2 linked regions of the Homo sapiens genome follow. The protein of the gene in region 1 binds, or shares a complex with, the protein of each later gene. Each region holds a gene or a part of one and is shown on either strand. Other genes may lie near its edges. A codon is read from its position in the direction of its gene.

The links.
Region 2: the proteins of KPNB1 (region 1) and PTHLH are in contact, whole or in part, in a crystal structure (PDB 1M5N), measured with the Homo sapiens proteins. Residues at the interface, in NP_002256.2 of Homo sapiens: Val55 (codon at 1,976), Tyr104, Pro106, Gln111, Glu152, Tyr156, Gln159, Asn196, Leu199, Asn200, Gln239, Glu274, Gln278, Glu281, Asp288, Ile295, Ser298, Glu299, Asp339, Asp340, Trp342, Val350, Met353, Glu395, Trp430, Arg434, Glu437, Asn469, Trp472; in NP_945316.1 of Homo sapiens: Tyr103 (codon at 2,646), Thr105 (codon at 2,640), Gln106 (codon at 2,637), Glu107 (codon at 2,634), Thr108 (codon at 2,631), Asn109 (codon at 2,628), Lys110 (codon at 2,625), Val111 (codon at 2,622), Glu112 (codon at 2,619), Thr113 (codon at 2,616), Tyr114 (codon at 2,613), Lys120 (codon at 2,595), Thr121 (codon at 2,592), Pro122 (codon at 2,589), Gly123 (codon at 2,586), Lys124 (codon at 2,583), Lys125 (codon at 2,580), Lys126 (codon at 2,577), Lys127 (codon at 2,574), Lys129 (codon at 2,568).

The regions. Positions count from the first base shown.
Region 1 is NC_000017.11:47,645,310-47,654,732, reverse strand, and holds the start of KPNB1 (importin subunit beta-1), read right to left. Parts: upstream 4,815-9,423; 5' UTR 4,489-4,814; coding exon 4,449-4,488; intron 4,348-4,448; coding exon 4,289-4,347; intron 3,669-4,288; exon of another isoform or gene 3,357-3,668; intron 2,040-3,356; coding exon 1,857-2,039; intron 1-1,856.
Region 2 is NC_000012.12:27,960,920-27,969,733, forward strand, and holds part of PTHLH (parathyroid hormone-related protein isoform 1 preproprotein), read right to left. Parts: exon of another isoform or gene 8,762-8,814; intron 8,598-8,761; 5' UTR 8,576-8,597; coding exon 8,475-8,575; intron 2,852-8,474; coding exon 2,429-2,851; coding exon of another isoform or gene 2,425-2,428; exon of another isoform or gene 1,402-2,424; intron 1-1,401. UniProt on the Homo sapiens protein: Neuroendocrine peptide which is a critical regulator of cellular and organ growth, development, migration, differentiation and survival and of epithelial calcium ion transport.

The sequences.
Region 1 (9,423 bases):
GATTGCTTTCTGAAGACTCCATATTACTTGAGGTGATTTAGAAACTACGGATGTCCACCTCCTGAGTACTAAAAGTTTTCTGTTTAAACTAGAGGTAACCTTAATAGTAATATTCAATTATCAGAAAAGAGAAACTAGCTCCCAATTGTGCCCCAATATCCAGATTTCAAAAAAGATCACCAACAGTGAAACTTAGTATTAGTTATCGTTGTGCTATGAAAGGGAAAAAGGCCAAGGTACTGTTAGCTTTTTTCTCATGCCCGAGGGCTTAACCATGCCTATACAAATTATCTAATTTTTTTTTTTTTTTTTTTTTTAAGAAATGGAGTGTCACTCTGTCACCCAGGCTGGAGTGCAATGCGCAATCTTGGCTCACCACAATCTCCGCCTCCCAGGTTCAAGCAATTCTCCTGCCTAAGCCTCCAGAGTAGCTGAGACTACAGGTATCCACCGCCACAGCCAGCTAATTTTTGTATTTTTAGTAGAGACAGGGTTTCGCCATGTTGGCCAGGCTGGTCTCGAACTCCTGACCTCAGGTGATCCACCCACCTCGGCCTCTCAAAGTGCTGGGATGACAGGCATGAGCCACTGCGCCCAGCCATTATTGTCTAATTTTTTTTTAAAGGGTTGGTGTTAAGAGTGATGTGCCAAAAAATAAGCCAATTACAATTCCAATTACATCTTATCCCATTTACTAGTGTGTAAATTAAGGAAGATGAGAAACTGAATGGGCACTATCAGTATCGAGATTTCCAGTGATAGAATATACTTCCATTTATGTCACTTAGCTGAGGGAGAAGGAATTAAAATGTTGTTATTACACAAGCAGAACCAACATGAATAGAAACAGCTCTACATGCTCCAAAACGATTTGAAACCAAGTTGGATTTAATAACCCGGCTCCTTATCATGGGTATGCAAGATTGGTGACAGAAGGAGGTACACAACCAGATACAGAAGTTACTGCCTTACAGGGCACTACTTTACCTAATGCTGATATCTAGAACCAGGAAATAGCAAGTATGATGTGCATAACCATGTCCTGCACAAGTACATATGTAGGAATTCCCCACTAGTTTCCACTCAAATACCAAGGACAAAATGATGACTGCACAGATATTTAACTCACTCCTCTTTGTGCCTTACCCATGTAAGACAGATCACTAAAGAACTTAATTTAAAAACAACAACAGCCAGGCGAGGTGGCTCACTCCTGTAATCCCAGCACTTTGGGAAGCCAAGGCAGGCAGATCACCTGAGGTCAGGAGTTCAAGACCAGCCTGGCCAACATGGTGAAACCCCGTCTCTACTTCAAGTACAAAAATTAGCTGGGCATGGTGGTGGGTGCCTGTAATCCCAGCTACTTGGGAGGCGGAGGCTGCAGTGAGCCGAGATCATGCCATTGCACTCCAGCCTGGGCAACAGAGCAAGACTGTCTCCAAAAAAAAAAAAAAAAAAAAATTCCCTGAGCTGTACTCCAGAAGTACCGAATCGGAATTTCTGGAGAGCTTGGAAATACCTATTAACAAATTCCCTAATTTTTATACAAATGTAGCACCAATTTGTACACTACTCCCATTTGCCAAACAGATTTTACCAATTATGGCACGTAATTAAAGTTTCCCAAACTGCTGCAGCCTACCTCAGTCATCTAAAAAGAATTCCAATCCATCAATGGGAATGGACAAGCTGTGTTGAGAAAGATTTAAGACAAAGACAATTTTTATCTTTAGGTAAAGTTGAGGTCCCAGAAACCTATCACACTGTTAGCTCTATCCCATGCAAATAGCAAAAGATCTGAGAAAGCGATTTCTTGTTCTCTGGGCAATATAACCAAACAGATAAGCGTTACTCACATAGTTCTTGACTTCTCGTCGAGCATTAGCATCAATAGCAAGCCACCTCTGCTGATATTGTGCCTTGATATCTGGATCTTTAGATGTCAAAGAGTTCTTGATTTGTAGACCAGCTGCAACTCTGGCAACCTGACTGTTTCCTGGATTTGCCAGCACTCTGGACAGTTCCACAAGGAAAGTGGGCTGTTAAGGGAAGATAAATTTGTAAATAAAAATATCTTAGGAATTTCCACAACTGAGGATAATTTATAGAGCACTGAACCACCAGAGGGGCGGCGAGGGGGGGAACTAATGTCTAATTTTTTTTTGATATAAGCATTTCAGGAAACCACAAAATATTTACTTCACTGACTTCTATAAAAATGTTACTTAGTGTAACAGGAAGTCTTCCACTTTTCTCGTGGAGCCTAGCACTTAATGAGGAATTACAGATTTCCCTATCAAGATCATTCTTAGTGCCCAAATTGTCATGTTAGACCCCCGAATTGCAAGGTTTCAGAGTATGGTAGTAGTAGTCAGTCTTCTATGTATACTGAGGTGTCCCAAGAACTTTTAATAATGTCTGGTACTCAATGTTTGTTAAATGAATGGCTGTTATGATGGGGGGTAGAAAATAAAACTGTTTATCTAAATTTCAAAAACCTTGGTCCCAAAAGAATGATCCAACTTTCCATCTCATGGCAGCAGCAGGGTAGCTTTTCAATCCATGGAAGGAGGTGATCTTTTATGAGAGGGGGAAATACAGATAAGCCTAAAACAAACTTAGGAGCCTCATCCTCCGTTTTATTTGTGGGCACTCAGCAAAAAGGGAACAATGAAAAAAGCAGATTTATAAGGAAAAGTGATAAGATATTTAGAAATAGGGAAAAAGTGAAAGAAAAAATCTTCAGGCAAGCTGTTCAAGCAAAATAACTTTGTATCTAATGATCAACAATTACTTGCTCCTTTACATTTGGACTTTAGTTGAGGAATACAGTGGATCCCTGAAAAGCATGTTCTTTTGTAACCTTTTGTAATCCACAGGCCTCAAAAACTACTCCCTTTGTTTAAAAATTTAGCACACACACACCTCTCCACCAAAAACCGTGCCCAAACAGCAAAGTTAGCAGGAAAAGTCAAAAGCAGACACATTTTTCTTACTGCTAACAAGCTCTGCAATCACAGCAGAAGATAATTCTTAAAAGTTTTATTAATTATGTACCACTAAAGAATGTTAAGAATGTTAGGAATAAGATAAAAAGCTTTTTGCAAAATTTGCAAAAGCAGAAACAGGAATAATACCCTAAATGGAATTATCAGCCTATACTAGTGGAAAAATCTCTTCTAGGAAAGGATAAACAGGTTAGTTGTAAAAATTGGCACATATGAAAAACAACAAAAAAATCATTCAAAGGCAGTCTGTATAAAATAAGCCTTGTCACTTTGTTGATGTTGACATTTTGCCTATATAACACAAAGGAACACATATGGTTAGTGTTACTCAGACTTAATTCCTATTACCTTTCTCAAAGATGTCAAGCATCATCCAATCCTTCCCTCTGACCCCATCCCCCAACAGGAGATGGACACCAAAGAGAAACTTAACTGGCATCTAGGCTGTTTCAACCAATCCATCCCACATTTTTATACAAAGGACCAGTCTCTAGCGGACTTAGCTTCATTTTCTCCGGACCCCTTAAATTTTAAAATATGAAAAACGAGGAACTTTCCCCTGTGATTTCATCAGCAAACAGGCCCCATCTCAAAGATGAGCCTCAGTCTGTTTTCTGGGTGCAGATCCCTAGTGATTAGGTCTCTATTCATCCAGGTCAGAAGAAAAAAAAAAAAGAAAGAAAGAAAAAGAAAAAACCCCAAGAGAGGAATAACCGAGCAAAGAGGGAAAAATATCAGTGGAAATGGGTTAAGAGGCAGTCGGGTGCCAGGCCTGGCCATGAGTACAGACCAAGGTAGCTAGGAAAGGGCAGAGCTCTAGGAAATAGGTGGGGAGAGCCACAGGGGCCACGGGATAGGAAGGAGAAGCCGGCCGGGGTCAGACAGGGCGGGCGGCCGGGCCCGGAGCTTCCACATGGCCCCTAGGCCCGACTCCCCCGCCCCCACCCCTGCTGAACACGCAGCGCCGCGCAACCTAACTTCCCTTCCCTCCCTCTTTCTCCCTCCCGCTGCACCGCCGCCCTCAGGCCGCGCAACGATTGGGCGGCAGGCAGCTCGGCGCGCCAAGCCATTGGCCAGTCGCGAGGCCCGGGGCGGGACACACCCACCGGCTTCCCGATGGCGGGGTTAGGTTGGACCGGGTTGGGGGGGGAGGGGGAGGGGGGAGGGGGACGGGATGGGGCGGGGTAGGTTCCCGAGGCCTGGGCCTCCGGGAGGGCGGGAAGGCCCCGCACGCAGGGGATGGGGACGCGGCGGGATGGGCGCGGCGGGGTAGCACGCACCAGGTTCTCCACGGCCGCACGCTCCAGGAACTTCTGCGCCGCTTCCAGCTCCAGCCGATCTAGGGGGAGGAAAGTGGGAGACGGAGCGGGGTCAGAGGGGCCGGGCCTCCCCTCCCCCACCCCAATCACCTCAGCCCTACCCCCGGCTCCTGCGTCCTACCGGGAGACACGGTCTTCTCGAGAATGGTGATCAGCTCCATGGCGGAGGTGGCGGCGGCGGCGACTCCTCCTAAGACGACGGCCCGGCCTTTCGGGCGGCGGCTCGAACTGGGGATGGGGGTTGGGGGTCGGGTGGGAAGGGAGGGTGGGGTGGGGGGCGGGGGTCACCACAAACCCATTCACCGGCTCTGTCTGGGTAGTCGGTCCGGCTCCCCTTCCTCTCCTCTTCCCTTACTTCCTCCCTCCAAATGGGCTGCTGGCGGCGGGGGAGGGACCCTGGGGGCAGCTCAGAGCGCGCTGGTGCTCGGGAGGCGGAGGGAGAAAGAAGGAAGGGAGGCTGTGAGTGAGAGGCGGCGCGCAGGGAGGGAGCGAGGGAGGGAGGAAGGCGGAGGGATATTCGGACCGGACCTCTCCGCGGAGGCGCCGCGCTCCACGACGATTGGCCGTTGTCCTGGCCACGCGGAATCCCTAACTGGCCAGGCGCTCAGCGTCGAAGGGCCGTCTCGCGCCCATTCGCCTGCTGGTTTCAAGGCCCGGGTTGGCTGGGCGGGCAGCGGAATGGAGCGCGCGGATTGGCCGAGGGGAGGGAGATTGGGATGGGGTAGGAGAGAGCCCGCCGTTGATTGGGTGGGCTTGGTAAAGGCCTTGAGCTCAGACCGGCTGAGCGCTGGGAGGAGGGTGGACCGGAGGCACGACTCGGATCCTGCGCGATTGGCTGGGATAGTAGGCGTTGATAGGATAGGGTGCCCGGGAGAACTAAGGAGAGGAGTTCGGGGTCGGGGCGCGGGAAGGCGGGAGGTGCCCGGCAACCCTAGGAGCCCGGCGCGGGGCACGATGGGACGCCCCCGGGAAGAGGCGGAGCTGGGTTCGAGCGCTGGGGCTGCGGTTGGGTAAGCGCCGTCGCTCCGAGGGGCGTGTTGCGCGAGGTTTTCGCGGGCCTGAGCGGGGGAGGGGGGACTGTTGAAGTCCTGCGCCGCGCCCACAGGAAGCTGCTTTAATGGCTAGGTCGGCTTGGTACCCTGCTTTCGGCTGGGAGGGATCCGTAAGGCCATGTGGCTCCACTGCCAATGTGTAGATGTGGAAACTGAAGCCCAGAGAGGGTATGGAACTTGTCCAAGGTCACACAGCTGGTTAATGGCTTGGTAAGGAATGGGTTCAGGAGCCCAGAGAGGGTCTGGAACTTGTCCAAGGTCACACAGCTGGTTAGTGGCTTGATAAGCTCAAGCTCTCCTGACGGCCCTTGTCCCTACAAGCAGCTTCCTCTCCAAGGAGTCCCCTAAGCCTGCTTATATGGGGCTTGAGACCTGTGCTGTGATAAATCTGACTTGCTTAGGGGTGAGCTAAGGGATTCCTCCTCTTAGACCCCCCATCCATAGCTACCAGGTACTTGACAGGATGGAAATGTTTCACCCTCCAAAAGTACCCTGTAAAGGCCCAACCTCGAACCAGAAAGAATGTGTGTACAGGAATAAAGGATTGTGGTTCTTAACCTGTTTCAGTTCTCAACCCCGGAAGAAACTCATGAATGCCTTTTCTTAGCAAAATGCATATAAAGAAAACGTGGGCCGGGCGCTGTGGCTCGCGCCTGTAATCCCAGCACTTTGGGAGGCCGAGGGGGGCGGATGACGAGTCAAGAGATCGAGACCATCCTGGCCAACATGGTGAAACCCCGTCTCTACTAAAATATAAAAAATTAGCCCGGTGTGGTGGCGCGTACCTGAAGTCCAAGCTATTCCTGAGGCTGAGGCAGGAGAATCGCTTGAACCCTGGACGCAGAGGTTGCAGTGAGCCGATATCGCGCCACTGCAGTCCAGCCTGGCGACAGAGCGAGACTCCATCTCAAAGAAAAGAAAAAAAATGTGCATACAGTATGTGGCTCAGGCCTGCAATCCCAGGACTTTGGGAGGATCGCTTGAGCCCAGGGGTTCAAGACTAACCTGGACAACTTAGCGAGATCCTGTCTCTTTTAAAAAAAATGAAGATTTTTAAAATGATAAAGGAAAAGTGTAATAATAGGGCCGGGCGCGGTGGCTCATGCCTGTAATCCCAGCACTTTGGGAGGCCGAGGCGGGCGGATCACTTGAGGTCAGGAGTTCAAGACCAGTCTGGCCAACATGGTGAAACCCTGTCTCTACTAAAAATACAAAAAAAAAAAAAAAACCTAGCCGAGCGTGGTGGCGCACGCCTATAATCTCAGCTCCTCAGGAGGCTGAGACAGAATCTCTTGAACCCGGGAGGCAGAGGTTGCAGTGAGCCAAGACTTCACCACTGCACTTCAGCCTGGGCGACAGTTAAGACTCTCAAAAAAAGAAAAAATAAATGGTAACAAAGAATTTCTTGAATTGTTTCATTTTCACAGTAATGATGTAGGGGTAATTGGATGTAGCTGGTTCATAGAGCTTTTTACCATATGACTTGAGCTTGTGAGGTAATTGCCCTGCAGTAGCCACACTGGGAAAACCTAGGAGGAAGTCTGACTTTGTTGAAAGGTTTCACAAAGAATTAGGAAAGATTGGCCAACTCTTTGTTAAAAGAGGAAGAAATGGTCTTTCTCTGCTAGAGATATCTTTGCAGTTTTGAAGCTAGAAATGTAGGGACACCATTCCTCACACCATACTGTGACTAGTGGATTTCCCATGGCTTAGCAGCTAACCCCAGCCTTTTGCTTCATCTATTAACTGTGGAAGAACTGCCCTGTGTGTGTAACTTTGTTATAAATCAGTGAAGATTGGGCCAGGGCGTGGTGGGTCACGCCTTTAATCCCAGCACTTTGGGAGGCTGAGGTGGGCAGATCAACTGAGGTCCGGAGTTAGAGACCAGCTTGGCCAACACAGTGAAACCCTGTCTCTACTGAAATACAAAATTAGCCGGGCGTGGTGGTGGGCACCTGCAATCAATCCCAGCTACTCAGTAGGCTGAGGCAGGAGAATTGCCTGAACCCGTGAGGCAGAGGTGGTAGTGAGCTAAGATTGCACCACCGCACTCCAGCCTGGGTGACAGAGCAAGACTCCATCTCAAAAAAAACCCACTGTACTCCAGCCTGGATGACAGCAAGACTCCATCTCAAAACAAAACAAAACAAAACAACACTGCATTCAGCCTGGGTGCCAGAGCAAGACTCCATTTCAAAAAAAAAGAAATCAATGAAGATTGGCCATGCGTGGTGGCTCACGCCTGTCATTGCAGTACTTTGGGAGGCTGAGGCTGGAGGATCTCTTGAGCCCAGGAGTTTGAGGCCAGCCTGACCAACATGGTGAAACCCTGTCTGTACTAAAAATACAAAAATTAGCCGGGTGTGGTGGTGGGAGCCTGTAATCCTAGCTACTTGGGAGGCTGAGGCAGGAGAATCACTTGAACCCAGAAGTCAGAGGTTGCAGTGAGCCGAGATTGCGCCACTGCACTCCAGCCTGGGCGACAGTGAGACTGTGTCCCCCCACCGCCGCTAAAAAGTCAATGAAGATTAAGTGAGATGACATCTGTGAAAATCCTGGAATTGTCCTTACCTGAGTTACCTACACTACAAATTATCCATAATTTGTTTCACTCAAGCTAACTTTCCCCTGCTCTCCAGCAGTTTGCTGGGCTACCTCTGTCTCAACATCAGTCATGATGATACCAGTGAGGGCAAATGGATTTTTAAAGCAACTGAAATAAGAGCAAAACCCTGTCTCTATACAATTTTCTTTCTTTCTTTCTTTCTTTTTTTGATACAGAGTCTCGCTTTCACCCGGGCTGGAGGGCGGTGGTGCCATCTCAGCTCACTGCAACCTCCGCCTCCCGGGTTCAAGCAATTCTCCTTTGCTCTTAGGATATAGACAAAACCACTTGCATGGCAGGCAAGGTCTTGTATGATCTTGCCTCCGCTCAGCACTAGCTCGACTCAATCCCTTGTTCTCAATCCCTTGTTTTCCCAAGTAGCTGGGATTACAGGTACCCACCACCACGCCCAGCTAATTTTTTTTATATTTCAGATGGGGTTTCACCATGTTGGCCAGGCTGGTTTCAAACTCCTGACCACAAGTTATCCGCCCACCTCGGCCTCCCAAAGTGCTGGGATTACAGGCGTGAGCCACCACGCCCAACCCATACAATTTTGAAAAAGCCGGGCATGGTGGCATGTACTTCAGGAGGGTGAGGCAGGAGGATTACTTGAGGCCAGGAGTTTAAGGCTGCAGTGACCTATGATCCTGCACTCCAGCCTGGGTGACAGCTAGACCCTGTGGCTGAAGTAAAATGCTGGGAAAATAAAAGTTTTACAGCAAAGTTCCAATCAAACATAAAATCCTTACCAAAATCAAAATGAACTGACTTTAGTTGAACTAAAGTTACTGATGGTGCTGTTTAGTTCTTATCAAAAGTACTCACATTCAATAAATGCTGGTGAGGTACCGGAGCTTGAGTGATGAGCACAGACTCCAGAAATTGGGTGCCTGAGTTCCTATCCCAGCTCTACCACTTCTTAGTTTGTGAGTTAACTTTCCTCAATGTAAAATGAGACTATTAATTGTCCTTACTATGTAGGGACAAATAGGGAGGTCCTAAGTGAGTTAAGACATGGTGAATGGGCTGAGTGCAGTGGCTCATGCCTATAATCACAGCACTTTGGGAGGCCAAGGCTGGAGGATCACTTGAGCCCAGGAGTTTGAGGCCAGCCTGGCCAACATGGTGAAACCCTGTCTGTACTTAATACAAAAATTAGCCAGGCGTAGTGGCAGGAGCCTTTAATCCCAGCTACTCGGGAGGCTGAGGCAGGAGAATCACTTGAACCCAGGAGGTGGAGGTTGCAGTGAGCCGAGATCACGCCGTTGCACTCCAGCCTGGGTAACGCAGCGAGACCCTGTCTCAAAAAAGAAAAGAAAAATATGGCAGCTTTAATTTTAATTTAAAAAAATAAATAAAAGACATGGTGAATGCCAGTCTAGCATGTTATGTATGCATTGGCTGTTATCTCCTTACCATGTATTTTGTGCTAAGTG
Region 2 (8,814 bases), on another chromosome or scaffold:
GGCCCCATACATTCTCATCAATACACTCCTAAGCTTCCTCACTCTTCCCTGAACCTCTGTTGGATTGTGTTGGGAGAGTGCCAACATTTGGCTGCCAAACAGTTCTTTCCATGAATGTCCCTCACAAACAGGGAAGAGAAAGGAAAAGCAGAAACCTCCTATTTCTTTCAGCCCTAGGTCTGGATTTGATTAGGCCACTGTCTAATTTTCACTAGACCTACTTTAACTTAGGGGTAGTTCCAGGCGTAAGAATTGACGAGTGTTAATTTTCATCAATTCTCCAGATACTTAAAGAACATTGCAAATTTGAAATAAATAAAATCCATCAAAAGTTATTTATACCTCTTTTTATAACTCATATATATACGTATATATATATACGTATATATATATATATATATACGTATATATATACTTTTTGCCTCATAGAAACATATCCCCCTAGATAGATAGATAGATATAAATAGATAGATGATAGGTAGAGGATACAATCAGAACTAGGTCTAAAAACACCAAAATAATATGTTGCAATTTATTGAATGTTTACTATATACATATATGTTTATATATATATGTTTATATATATGACATGTTTATATATATGAGACAATGGATAAAAATAGGTTTTGGCAATAAAGTAGGGTCCTTACATTAGTTATAAATATATACAGTTAGGATCCTATCTTAAAACACACTAAATATGTGCAGTAAGCCAGAATTTATAGGGTTTGTTACCCTTTAGAGATCCATTAGATGTTTGCAGGATAGGTCATTCACTGTGCTCAAGATTTTTCTAGTGCCACTGCCCATTGATTACTGAAGCTGTACTACTTATCCCATATGATTGCTATTTTATGTGCTATTTAATGATGGGTTTGCCAGCTTAAAGAGACAAATAATGGTGAATAGGTTCAAGGTCCCCTTTGAAGCATCATCCTATAATCCTATCTGTAGCAGAGTCAAAGGAAATGACTAAAGAAGTAACAGGGGACTCTTAAATAATGAGATCATTAGTTGCATATGATGTGTTCTTCTGTTGTTTTCCTTTTTTTTTTTCAAACCCCACAGAAGTGCTGTACTGAAAAGTGAAAAGAAAAAAAAATCATTTCAATGGAAATGCATCGATAAAGAAGCAGGGCAAACATAGCACTGTCTACGTGTCAGAAAACAGGGAGATAAATCCAGCTTTGGGGCCACCTATTTCAATTCCAAGGACTACTCAGGTCTTTTAGCCGTGGAATGCCTTGGCTTTCTATTTTATAAAATGGGATTAATATTTGCCCCACTTTTTGCCTCATAGAAACATACCCCCCTAGATAGATAGATAGATAGATAGATAGATAGAAATAGATTATAGATAGGTAGATGGTACAATCAGAACTAGTTCCAAAAACACCAAAATAATATGTTGCAATTTATTGAGTGTTTACTATATGACAGATATTTAGTCCACATATAATCTCATTTAGTTGACACCAAACTCTATGAGGTTGGTACAATTATATTTCACAGAAGATGTAAGTGAGTCTTAGAAAGGCAGAGTAACTTGCCCTAGGTTGTGAACTTAAATAAATTCAGACCCAAGACTTGGCCCTAAGTTATTTGATCCCAAAGTCTAGGAGTGTCATTATTACCTCAATCTGTGAGCTAAGGATAAACAAGCCACATAAATGTGAAGTTTTATTTTTCCTACGGCATTACCCTAGAAAAATTATTTCATCTTGCCAATGAACAAAAAGATACATGAGAAAAACCTATATCCTTGTAAGTTAATACTTAAACATTTTCAGAAACCATTTATTTTGTATGAGCTGGTAGAAACCAGAGTTAAATTTAATTAAACAAATTTAAGGCATGTGTTTAAAACATAATTTAAGTTCTTTACATTAAAATAAATTTGAGATTTAATTAAATACATTTAATTAAATAAAAAGTGTGAATGGCTCAGAATCGTTTATGACATGATGCTGTTCTGCAGTGTTTGTAGATAATATCAAATGCTTCTATATTCTCCCTTGAAGTGAAAGAACGTAAGAAATGAAAAACACTGAAGAAAGTTTGCCCAGGTGTGAGAGTAAGGGGAAGAAACACACTTCTCCAGCAAATTATGAAGATGGTCACTAGCTTCTGAAGCTTGAATATGAAATTATTTGGTAGAGTGGTAAAGGATTGATGTTGGGTGACGGTGGAGAAAGAGGAATGGGCTCTAGCGCCTCTCTATGGTGCTGGAGGACAGGGGTGTGTGTGGTAGGGGGGTACTGCTTTAAGGCAGACAATATTCTGAGTTATTCTCTGTCAATTGCTACACAATCGATAGAGATACATAAAGGGAGAAAATTCTAGGTTTGTCCAAGCCAAGGCAGAAGGGAGGCTCCAAAACCCAGCTGAGAGCACCCCGCTGAGGCTACGGGCCAGAGAAGCCTGTTACCGTGAATCGAGCTCCAGCGACGTTGTGGAGGTGTCAGACAGGTGGTCCCCTTCTAGCCCACTCCCAGTCACTCCAGAGTCTAACCAGGCAGAGCGAGTTCGCCGTTTTTTCTTTTCCTGCTCCTTGCGTTTCCCGGGCTTGCCTTTCTTTTTCTTCCCAGGTGTCTTGAGCGGCTGCTCTTTGTACGTCTCCACCTTGTTAGTTTCCTGAGTTAGGTATCTGCCCTCATCATCAGACCCAAATCGGACGGGGTGGTTCTTTGTGTTGGGAGAGGGCTTGGAGTTAGGGGACACCTCCGAGGTAGCTCTGATTTCAGCTGTGTGGATTTCTGCGATCAGATGGTGAAGGAAGAATCGTCGCCGTAAATCTTGGATGGACTTCCCCTTGTCATGGAGGAGCTGATGTTCAGACACAGCTCTTTTGCTTTGAAAGAAAATATTAGAGGGGAAGAAAACAGTTAAATTTTAGTTGCTGATAGAGACAACAAAGACATGAGTAAATCTCTTTAGTTTTCTAGTTGGTCCACCGTAAGACACAAGCTGGATGGGTAGCAAGCTCATTGCGCAGGGAAGGGTAACCAGTGGGAAGGAAAGAGCTGGCAGTTGGAAGGCTCCAGCTCATGGTCCCAGTTCTACCACTCACTAGGTTGTGACCTTGGTGGGAACATGAACATTCTTGGGCCTCATGGGCTTCAACTGTATAAAAGGAAGGGGTCAGAGACAGTGATTTCTATACTTCCTTCCCGGTTTAAAACATATGATTCAGTTATGATCAGAAATAGACAGAAACCACGGAGTATCTCTTCACATTTTTCAGAGTTCTGCTGAGAAAATAAATCTAGAAGTCCCAGCCTGGGAAATAAAAGGCAGCTGCTTTTACCTGAGTATTCTCTCTCTCTCTCTCTCTCTCTCTCTCTCTCTCCTCTCTCTCTCTCACACACACACACACACGCCCCATTAAGAAAATAATAATATTGAAACAGCAAGCCGTAAGAGTAAAAACAAACAAAGGCTGAAGGAGAAGTGAGCAGTGTAGCCTGTCTAGGAAACCATCTGATTCACAGACTGAACTTTAACATTTTAGACTACTGGCTACCAAGAACATACATTTGAAGGCCAATCGTCAGAGAGAGAGAGAGAGAGAGAGAGAAAGAGAGGGAGAGTATGTGTATTTTTCTGTAAAGTAGTGGGTGGTCTCCTTAAAATGGGTTTCTTTGTGTGCTTAAATGAGCTCATTCTATTTCTTCTGTGCTTCATGTTTTTTTTTTAAATTTAGAACTTCAGAGAGTATGATCCTTACTACTTAGTTGAGAAGTTCACTTTTCTACTTGCTCTCTTTGTCTTAAAATTCTCTAGGAAAAAATATAAAGGATTTTTCTATTTAAATGACACTCTAATGAAAATATCGTGAGAAAGAATAAACTAATTCTCTATCAATCCTTTTAGATAACACCCAAACTCTTGCTTAAATGTCCATTGTGTATTCTTTTATTATTTTGTGTATATTATTAACCATATTTACGGACTGCATCTGTTAATCAGTCATATCATGCCTGCTTCAACTCTGCATTAACTCCAATTTCTACCATTGGAATAGTCCTCCAAACTGGCCCATCCTCAAAAGCATCTCAAAGTGTTTCCCAGGGCTACATCCCATGTACTCTTACTTCCCTGAAACAATGGTGTCTGGGTCCTTTGTTGCCTTTGTTGGTGCAATGTCTTTAACTCCTCAGAGAAATATGGCAATCATAAATAGCATTATTACTGCCCCCATTGTATTCATGGGGAAAGTGAGGTGCAGAGAGGTTAAATGACTTGCCCTAGTCTACACAATGAGAACTGGCAGAGCCAGGGCTCCAAAAACTAGGTCTTCTGATTCTAAAGCCAAGACTGCTTTTTCAATTTCCTCAACGCTTTCTCCTGCCTAAGCGGAAGCTGAAGCTGAAGTCCCAGCCTGTTCCTGTGTTGAGGCAACACGGTAAGGAGAGTACAGGGTATATGCATGGGGCATAGAGTAACAAGCCACCACAATAATAGGCAGATTGGACAGAAATTTATCAGTTTCCTTGAAGATCAAGCCTATTGCCCAGAAAGTTCATTTTCATCATCAAATTTAGGAACTACAAGAGTTTGGATTATCACTGGATGAATGAGTCAAAGAAAAGAGTAAGAGATGAAAATACAGTCATCATTTCTCTGGCCCTTCTAGCTAGAATGTCAGCTACCTTCTAGTATTTTAGTGTGTGGACTGACTTGAAGCCATGTAGCTCATTCAAAAAAGACATGACTTAATGGAAAGGAATTTAACAGGAGCCTGGTTTAAATGAGGCATGAAGGAGTCTCTCTTTCTTTTAGAAGGTGCCACATGTGACTAGATTAAAATTCACTTACTCTGCGGTAATAGTTAGTATTCTGGAAACTTTTAAGAATCTACAAGTTTGAGGCTTTGGTACAAGGTATTTATATCCTTTAATAACATTTATAAAATAATAGGACAGATATAATTGCATATTTCATAAGCACTACAGTTTAATAAGTATCTTTTAGCAAAATGTCACATTAAAAAGCAGTTCTTAACCACTGATAATTTATAGTATTGGGGGCTTTTATTTCTTTCTCTGTTCCTGGCAGAAGCCCTCGTCTTCTGTATTGCTCTCCAAATGGATAAAGTGTAGCCCATTTTAGCTTAACTTGAGGCCAAAACTTTTAATGGTTGGTCTATTCTAATTAAGCCACCATTGCTCATATGCCCCTTCTCATGGGCATATGTGCTTGTCATCTTGGCCAGCCTGTCAACTGTGAGTCACAGTGCCTTCCTAACTCAAGCTGCATTTTCCCAGGATAGTTCTCTTGGGAAATGCAGTGATCATTCCATCCTTCTAATTTATAAAAAGCCTACAATATGGCACAGCTTTGTTCAATTTAAAATAGTACATTGCTTACGAGGGACAAAGCTTTTCATCTGCCTTTTGGGGGAAACTGTTAGTATCTTGGAAAACACAAGTTTTCTTAAATGCTAAATTGGAAATGCTGTTAGACACTTTACTTAGTATTTCAAAAACTTCTGCAATTAAAGTATTGTGAAGAATGAATCTCTCACTAGGCAGTTGCATTAGAGGATCAGGAATATAATGGCATCAGTATAAACTAGGTATACAGAGGTAGTGAGTAATAAATTCAAATTAAGGACGTTTTCAATTTAGATAACTCTGAAATATTTAAGTTGTAAATATGGCCTCAATAATAGTCTTTTACTCAATTTGTCTGTAAACATTACATAGCACTATGGTTCACATGACACTTACATACCTAAGCTCCAAAATGGAAAAACAGGTAGGTTATGTATCATGTTCTCCTTTGATTATTGTAAAAAAAAATTGCAAAATTTTGGGGAAATGCTTATCATAGATAACCCTAAATTCAGCCCAAACATAGTTCTTCTCCTTTAAAAAAAAAATCACTCCAAGGGAGTTTTTAGGGAAGAAGCTTAGATTTCTAAGGAACTATCAAGGAACAGAGGGCATAAAAACAGTGATGGAAATTCCCTTTCCAGCACAGGAAGAAGCAGTATGCTTGTACTGATGCTAGGCTTCTAAGGACGGACTCTGTGTTTGAGAAGAAAAGTTCTGTGGTACATGCAAGAGACAGGGTTAGGGTGTTAGAGTTAAGATGACTCACCAGAAGGTCCTTCCAACCCAAATGACTCAGTAGAAAGTTATGCTTTTCATTAAATGGAATAGACCCAGTCTGGCTCCTAAGCAAATCAGCCAATGACGTTTTAGGTTTCTGAATCTGTGGAGTTCCCTCTCTAACTTAAACATAGAGATAGCCACCTGCCAGAAGCCTTGTTCATCTGCACAAGAACATCCATAGGCCTCACTTTCCAGTATCCAACTTGATCATGCTCTAGCTCCATTAATTAAAATCTTTGGGATTAACAGGTCAAAAAGACTCACAATTTGTAACTGCTTCCTTTGCATGGTTTAGGAAGTCTTATTGTTATAGTAATTTCCTCTCCCTTAAAAGTTAGCATCTAGTTAAAAAAAAAATCTATACTTCTAAAGCAGTTTCCCTAATACTTGGTGTGAAAACCGGGGAGTAATATGGTTTGATTATATGTTAAAATTTCTTTCAAGAAACTAGCTTGATTTAGCATAATGGTAGACTTATGTTTTGTCTAGCACACAAAATTTACTGTTACTTGGCAGCAAGACAAAAATAATGACTTGTTTTTAAAAACTCCATTTGGCTATGATAATTTGATGAAACATCTTCATCTACTGATGATTTCAGCCTCCATGAAAAACCATGCCTGTAATGTGATGATCTATTACCCATTAACTATGAGAATGTTTTGTGGTAGTTTTATAACCATCTGCTGAGTGTGAGTGTTTAACTACAATATTATATTTCACCCACAAACAAAACTATAACAGTCGCTGGCTGCTAAATGGTTTCTGATGTGTGTTTTGTAAGGTGCAACAAAGAAAGAGTTAAAAATAGCCTTTAGGACAACTTAGCAGTATTTTTATGCCATAGTTGTGTATATAATCGTGAATCATTTGCTGTTTCTCAAAAGAGAAAACAGGTATTTCTTAAGCAACTTTAAAGAAAAAATTGGCTCTGTTCCAAGGTAGTATTTCTTAGCCAAATAAATATAGTATTTAAGTGTGCTTTTAAAAATTCAGTCTTCATTTCTATTTATGTATGAATTTCAAATTATTGAATTTAAGACAAGTTTCAAAATGAGCAAAAAGTCTGAAGACAATTTTCAGAAACACATCGGTAAAATGTTGATCTGAAGAATACAATGCAGCCTTATCTTCGGTATAATGTTCTACACAATTTGCCTTAGGAGATTCATAATAGATTTTCATTTTGATGCCAAGGTTCCGACATGTCTAAAGTAATTTCATTTAAGGATTTTCTCCTCTAATAATAATAGACCACAAGCACGTATAAAACAGTTGCCTTTTTGTACACCCTCGGGAATTTACAAGGAAGCACCATAAACCTGACTGTAAATATTAGATACTGCTATTTTTATTGTTAGTGTAAAAATTTGCCTTAATTCCTTCTCCAGAGTCAAACGCATCTCAGTTCTCGAACTTTATAGTTTTCCCATTCTGAACACTGAGTCTGCAGTTTAAAGATCACCCAACTATGGTGTTATACACATTAGTGAACTGCTAGGTCCAACAGATTATTAAGATCATGTTACTCTATCACTCTTCCAAGTTTTCAGTCACACGACATAGTGATATTTCTCTGGTGTGCTTGGATGTATGATTATTTCAAAGTTGAAGTTATCATTAAAAGAATCACCAAGTGAGAATGCCAAAATACAAGTTTTCAGTCTACAATGCAAATATTTGACTCCAGATTAAAGAACTGTTAGCAATAACTCCAAGAAAAAAAAGGTTCCACACCTAAAATTCATTTTGGAATCAAGCGCTCTAGCGTTCCTGAACTGTATCAATACTAACATTGGAGTCGTGCCACTGCAAAGTTGTTGCTACTTTATTATATAATACGCTTTTATTATGTAATGTGTTCCTATTTTATATGCTTAAAATTATGTCATTCATAATAAAATTAGATGTACGGCTTTTGCTTTTTCACACGCAAACCGCCACCCACATTCAGTATGTATACAAGCGCGCAGGCCATACGTCCCCAGGACCGCTCAGCTTCCTCCGAGTTTCAGAAGCTTCCCGGGTCCTGACAGTAACCACCACCCCCCAACTTTTTTTCTTTTCCACTAGAGGCAGAGGATCTTTCCCTAGAAGAGATTCTGTGAAACGCTCCCTCTTATGGAAACACACATAAAGTCTCTCTCTTGCCTGTCTCCCGTTGAAGATCAACCAGTTCTCCTGCCAGGTTTGAGGACCCGGGCTCAGGCCCCGGCAGGTATCCGGGATGGTCCCTCTCCCTAACCCGGGCAAGGAGCATCGGTGACCGCTGCAAGCCCTCGGCAGCATCCCAGCTTGGCAGCCCCTCCCCCTGGCCTCCCCAACCCGGCGCCCTGGGGAGGATGGGGCACTTACAGGCGGCGGCTGAGACCCTCCACCGAGCGCCCGCAGGAGGGCACCGCGTAGCTCAGCAGGAACACCGCGACGCTCCACTGCTGAACCAGTCTCCGCTGCATCGTCTCCGCTCGCGCTCGGGACCTGCAACAGAAGGGAATGGGACCCGAGTGTCAGTCTGGACTCTCCATCTCCCCGCACTACTCCGCTCCCCCTTTTTAGCCCGCTCTCAAAAAGCCTCTTCAACATCAAGGGCATCTCCCAAGTTGAAAAGAAAAAAAATTTCTCTGGAGCCTCTCAGCACTTACTTATTTAGCAACCGGCTACTCCAACTGTGCTTTCTCCAAACCACACAGCCAGA